2 linked regions of the Homo sapiens genome follow. The protein of the gene in region 1 purifies or fractionates together with the protein of each later gene. This does not show direct contact. Each region holds a gene or a part of one and is shown in the gene's direction. Other genes may lie near its edges.

Region 1 (2,889 bases):
CTTCCTAATTGGGTAATGTTGGGCAAGTTCCTTAACCTCTCCATACCTCAGTCTGCTCACCTGCAAAATAGGGGTAACACTACCACCTGCCTCACAGGGTTATAAGGAGTATAACAGTTAATATAAAGTTCTTACAATTCCTGGCACACAGGAAGTGCTATAAAAGAGGCTGGCTGGGAGCGATAGCTTACACCTGTAATCCCAGCGCTTTGGAGGCCAAGGCAGGAGGACTGCTTGAGCCCAGGAGTTTGAGACCAGTCTGAAACTGGTCTCAACAAAAAATTTAAAAATTTTGTAGAGACTCCCGTCTCTACAAAAAATTTAAAAATTAGCCTGGCATGGTGGCACATGACTATAGATAGTCCTGGCTACTCAGGAGGCTAAGGCTGGAGGGTCACTTTAGCCCAGGAGATGGAGGTTGCAGTGAGCTATGACTGCCCCACTGCATTCCAGCTTGGTCAAGAGTATGATCGTGTCTCTTTGAAAAAAAAAAAGTGGCTGCTGTCATTAGCATGCCTACTTTCAAACTGTTGAATTTCTACCTGGATCCATTTAATTTATTTGTTTATTCTGAGACAGAGTCTTGCTCTGCTGCAGGCTGGAGTGCAGTGGCATGATCTTGGCTCACTGCAACCTCCGCCTCCTGGGTTCAAGTGATTCTCCCATCTGAGCCTTCCGAGTAGCTGGGACTACAGGCGCCCGCCACCATGCCTGGCTAATTTTTGTATTTTTAGTAGAGATAGGGTTTCACCATGTTGGCCAGGCTGGTCTCCTGGTTTCAAGTGATCTGCCCACCTCGGCCTCCTGAAGTGTTGGGATTACAGGTGTGAGCCACCGTGCCCGGCCTTTGGGTGCATTTTAAATTGCAGATAGAATACTAGAAGAAAATATATTACCCATGGAGGATGTTTTACAAACCAAAAAGCTTCTTCTCCCCTGGGGTTGGGAGTAGGGTCGGGTGGGGCTGGGCTGAGCAGGAACTTGTGAGATTCCAGAGCCCTGACTACAGGTGATCAGCGGTCAGCAACTCCCCAAAGTGGACAAGACCAAAGAGGGGTCCATTGTGGATCCACTGGTGAAAGTGCAGATCTTTGGCGTTCGTCTAGACACAGCACGGCAGGAGACCAACTATGTGGAGAACAATGGTGAGAAACTGGCAGTGCTGGGGAGGTGGGGGTAGGAGCATGATTAGTTTTCCTTCTAGTCTGTCTTCCATTAAGTATAGCATCTGTTATTGCATGTCCCCACATGGGAGGCAGTGTGGAACAGTACAAAGAATCCTGGCTCTTCACTTAAAAGCTCCAGTGACCTGGGCAAATTACTTGCTTACTCTGAGCCTTTTTCCTTACCTGTAAAATGCTGATTGCCATCTAGATTAAATGAGAACACAAGAAAAGCAACCCAGTCAAGAAAACTGTCATAATGTCTTCTTATTTCTTTCTGTCCACCAACTCAGGTTTTAATCCATACTGGGGGCAGACACTATGTTTCCGGGTGCTGGTGCCTGAACTTGCCATGCTGCGTTTTGTGGTAATGGATTATGACTGGAAATCCCGAAATGACTTTATTGGTCAGTACACCCTGCCTTGGACCTGCATGCAACAAGGTGAGCCAGCCCCTTTGGCCCCTGGCCAATACCCCAGCTCTGGCTGCCTTCCTAATGCTGTCCTCCTGCCCCTTCCAGGTTACCGCCACATTCACCTGCTGTCCAAAGATGGCATCAGCCTCCGCCCAGCTTCCATCTTTGTGTATATCTGCATCCAGGAAGGCCTGGAGGGGGATGAGTCCTGAGGTGGGCATTTCACGGGAAGGGTTGGTGTGCTGGCTTTAGACGGGGAGAAACATCTGGAAGGATGCTCGAGAGAACAAATGGAGGTGGTGAAAATCAAGCTTTGGATTGTGCATTCCTAGGCACAAAATTACCTCATTCTTCCTAACAAGCAATCTGGGACCTGATTTTCCACCTTTTTTCTCTTTTCTTCCCTTCCTTTGTTTTCATAAGCCTTTGGTATCTTTCCTGCCCTTTTCCTTTGTGTACTCTATACTGGAGTTCCCTTCTTCCTCTTGCTGTAGGCTCAATCCCATACCGACATCTACAACTAATCTTTCCCATCAACTCTGTGTGAAGGCAGGTTGCAACTAGAAATTCAGAGGGGCTTGGAATAGAGAAACCTAAAGAAGCATCATCCCCTCCATCCCCAACTTCCTCAAAGCCCAAAGCCAAGGGAAGGATAAATCAAGGCTCAAGGCTTCCCCAGCAAAGATTAGGGAAAGAGACTTGACCCCAGGACTGTACTACGACTCTTAAGAGAACACTGCACAGCACTCAAAGTCCCCCACTGGACTGCTTCCTCCTTAGCCCCACTGGTATAAATACATCTCTCTCCAATTTGGCTTCAATATGGTCTGTCATTGTTGGGCAAGAAGGGGAGGTACAAGGGTTGTGGGGACATCTGGGTAGTCAGGTGAGACAAGGAAAAGGTAGAGAAAGAGGTTCCCAGGAGACCTCTTGCATGTGCTACATAGGAAGGACACAGAGTATGGCTTTTAAGAATCAGGGCAAAAGCAGACAAAAGGTTATGTGGTCCCAGCCTTCCTGAAGAGTCTGGCTGGAACCATCCTGGTTTATGTCTGTTGTCCCAGCATAATTATTAATAGTACCCTCTTTAAGTTTTCCCAGTGTGTCTCAGTTTAGATGATCAATTATATAGTAAGGCACTACAGAATTATACTGTGAAGCAGTTATAGAATTCTGAATTGGAGATTTTCCTCTCTAGTCATCTGCCTTTCCATAGTATCCTTGTGCTTTAACACCTTAGTGTAGCTGCTGAGCCAGTCTGAGGATTGATGATGAGCTAAAGTTGCTTCTAGGAGGAGGCTTAGTGGGTA
Region 2 (3,500 bases), on another chromosome or scaffold:
TACCGGTAAGGCCACCTCTACCTTGCAGCTCTGGAAAACTGGTCAAGCAGGGCTCACTAGCCAGAGAGAGGTGAGAGGCACAGATAGAAGAGTGACAGGAATAAAGAATAGTGAAAGAACACTGATTTTGCCAGGGCAGTGAGTGGAATGGTACGCCACTAATGCACTTACTCTACAGTGCCACACGCTACTCCTTTATTTTATTCTCAAAACTCTCAGGTAGGTATTTTTCTCATTTCACAGATGAGGAAACTATGGTCAAGAAAGGGTGCCAGATTTATCCTTTTTTTTTTTTTTTTTTTTTTTGAGACAGGGCCTGGCTCTGTCACCCTGCCTGGAGTGCAGTTGGCTCACCCCAACTTCCTCCTTCCGTGCTTAAGTGATCCTCCCACTCAGCCTCCTGAGTAGCTGCAACTACAGGCACATGCCACCATGCCCAGCTAGTTTTTAAAATTTTTTGTAGAGATGGGGTTTCACCATGTTGCCTAGGCTAGTCTTGAATTCCTGGACTCAAGTGATCCACCCACCTCAGCCTCCCAAAGTGCTGGGATTACAGGCGTGAGCCACTGTGCCTGGCCAGACTTATCTGAAATCACATGCCAGTAGATAGCTGAACTGGGATTCAAACTCAGGTCCCTCTGACTCCATAGCTGTACTGTTTCCACTGTGGCAAAACATCCTGTTTCTGATTCCTGGTCCTCTCCATTTCCTTATGCATGACCTTGGGAAATGCATCCAAATTAACGTGTGTTTTAAGGACCCCATCTGCAGAGCAGATACGGTATTTCTCTGTCTCCCAAAAGGTAGAAGACTAGGATCACTGATTTCATAAGGTACTAAAAGCACTTTGTAAATCTGCAGAGGTAATTCTCCCACTATTTGTTCTGTTATTGTCATCTGTCCTTTAACATGTTTAAGCAGTATTTTATACTTAAACAATATTTAATACTCCTCCAGTGGCCCTTTTATTTTTGTCATTTAATTGTTTCTTTAACATGAGGTAAAAGATGAAGGGATATGGGGGGCAGTGTGGTGCTGAAACTACATGGAGAAATCCTGGCTGAAGGATGGCACTAAAACCAAGTGTAAAACCTCTCTGAAAGTTGGCATCCAAGGCAAAAAAGGCATTCTGATGAGTTAATTTGCCAAGAGTGTAAGTTTGTTTTCAGCTACTTAGAAGGCCTGGTCTCTGAGGAGGATTTGTCATAAAAGCTTTTATATGAAAAGCATTTTTTACCAAAAGTGCAGTCCACATGATGTTAAACCTCCATTTTTTTTTTTTTTTTTTTTTTTTTGAGACGGAGTCTCGCTCTGTCACCCAGGCTGGAGTGCAGTGGCGTGATCTCGGCTCACTGCGACCTCCACTGGGTTCAAGCAATTCTCACGCCTCAGCCTCCCGAGTAGCTGGGATTACAGGCACGTGCCACCACACCCAGCTAATTTTTGAGTTTTTAGTAGAGATGGGGTTTCACCATGTTGGCCAGGATGGTCTCGATCTCCTGACCTCATGATCCACCCGCCTCAGCCTCCCAAAGTGCTGGGATGACAGGCATGAGCCACCGCGCCCGGCCTAAATCTCAGTTCTTTAAAAGCAAATCTGGAAACAAGCAATATGGCCTGTAGCACTTTCTTCTCTCCACTGTTTGAGTTTAAGCCCATCTCCCACTTCCTCTCCCATTCTTTCATCTTTTCAGTCCAACTCCACTTCCTTCTGGCTTTCCACAGTCTTTCTCTTTTCTGTTCACACTGACTGCCCTACCCACCTCTGCCCTACTCCAAACACACAGACCCCTCTTTGGACTTCCCCTCCCTCCCAATGGCCCTTGAGCTCTCTCTGCTCTAACAGGCAGCCCAGCCCAGCTCATTCAGCTGCTTTTCTTCCTCCCTCCACTTAGACTGACTCTTTCTTTCTGGGGATCAGATATGTTCTTCAGGGGAGCAGTTCTCAGCAGGTACACTGCAAACAACTGAGATGTGTATTGCATGGAATTTGTTACCACTGTTGGTAAAACTGCCCAAGTTTTGGAAACGATTTACTTTTTATATAAATTGAGAAGATTTGAGGTCATCTCTCTAATAGCATCACTTTCTCTTGCTTGCATTCTAATATGCTTCCTTGAGGGGGAGAGAGAGGGTGGCATGTCAGCTGGTGTGCCAGGAATTATACGTGACATGCAGCCTACCTTATCTGTACTGCAGCCTGTAATCTGGGTGCCTGTGGGAGTGTGTTATGCACCATCACATAATGTCACGTGTGTCATGGCAGAGAAAAGGGTGAGAATTGGTGCTGAAGAGAGCTGGTGCCAAGGCCTGGAAGAAGCCAGATGGTTCACACCATCCATGAGTCATACCCTTGTTCAAAGATAGGGAGGTTGCAGTCACCTTGGGGAAGAGGTAAAAGGCTAAAAAGGAAGAAGCTGCTTCCTACAATGTTTCAGTCTCTCTCCTCCCTTCCACCCCCAAAATGCCTTTCAAATGAACAGTGATGAGTGCCTGTATCTGTATGGCGAATCAGACACAATCCCCACTTCTATCGTGTAGTGGAGGAGTTAGACACATACACAGCTATAATGCTAGGAAGGTGGGTAAAGGCCATACAAAAACTAATAAGTTAACATTTATTGAGTGCTTGCTGCACACCAGGCACTGTCCTAAGCACTTTACCTGCATTAACTCATTTAATGCTCAGAATAGCTATGTGAAATAGGTTCAGATTATTAGCATCACCACTTTACAGATGAACAAACAAGGCTCAGGGAGCTTAGCTCACTTGCCCTCTGTTAGACAGCACCCAGGCAGTGTGGCTCCAGAGCCTGTGTGTGCTGGCCCACTCTAGCAGCCAAAGTTCCATTTCCCACATAAGAGGAGAAACGAGCTAATGTTTTTCTAGGGCCTGCTGTGTGCCACTTGACTTAGCTCATTCATTTTTCAAAACAACTTTTTAATAAAAAGATAAATGTACATATTTGCACACGTCTGTATGTGGTCACACATGACTTAGTGGTTAGGTGGCATTTTACACCAAGGTGCTCACACTTCCTTCCATGGGCCTGCTGGGGGTTGCTGGAGCCTGATGGGGTAGTAGGCACTGGGCAAGGTAGTATATAAATAAATGTAAAGGCCAAGAGTTTGTGGCCTATTCATTTTTATAATTCCATATAACCCTGACAGTTTCTTTGTGAGTGGGTAGTATTATCCTCGTTCTGTCATCAGTAAAACTGAGGTTTAGTACAGCAGTGATGTCCTAAAAGTCATAAAATGGCAGAGGCAGGATTTAAATCTGGTTTGCTTAGAAGCCAAAGCCCCATCCCTTCCTTTGTACCCTGTAGTTTACAGTGCCAGAGTCTAGGCCACCTATAGCATGCCAGGCAAGGAGCACCTTCTCTGTGTGACAAGCACCGAGAGCAGCCCTCAATTCCAGGCCTGTTGGCATAGTAAGTGATACAGGTTGGACATTAAGAGCACTGGGCTGGAGGTTGAATGCCTCTGCCTCTGCCACT

Evidence for each region. The genes of interacting proteins can lie anywhere in the genome.
Region 2: the proteins of PLCD4 (region 1) and BRPF1 purify together in Homo sapiens (affinity purification with mass spectrometry; one large-scale study listed by BioGRID and IntAct). This does not show direct contact.

What each region holds. Positions count from the first base shown.
Region 1 is NC_000002.12:218,634,787-218,637,675, forward strand, and holds the end of PLCD4 (1-phosphatidylinositol 4,5-bisphosphate phosphodiesterase delta-4), read left to right. Parts: exon of another isoform or gene 1-1,009; coding exon 1,010-1,145; exon of another isoform or gene 1,146-1,456; coding exon 1,457-1,606; coding exon of another isoform or gene 1,607-1,684; coding exon 1,685-1,791; 3' UTR 1,792-2,389; downstream 2,390-2,889. UniProt on the Homo sapiens protein: Hydrolyzes the phosphatidylinositol 4,5-bisphosphate (PIP2) to generate 2 second messenger molecules diacylglycerol (DAG) and inositol 1,4,5-trisphosphate (IP3).
Region 2 is NC_000003.12:9,734,735-9,738,234, forward strand, and holds part of BRPF1 (peregrin), read left to right. Parts: coding exon 1-5; intron 6-3,500. UniProt on the Homo sapiens protein: Scaffold subunit of various histone acetyltransferase (HAT) complexes, such as the MOZ/MORF and HBO1 complexes, which have a histone H3 acetyltransferase activity.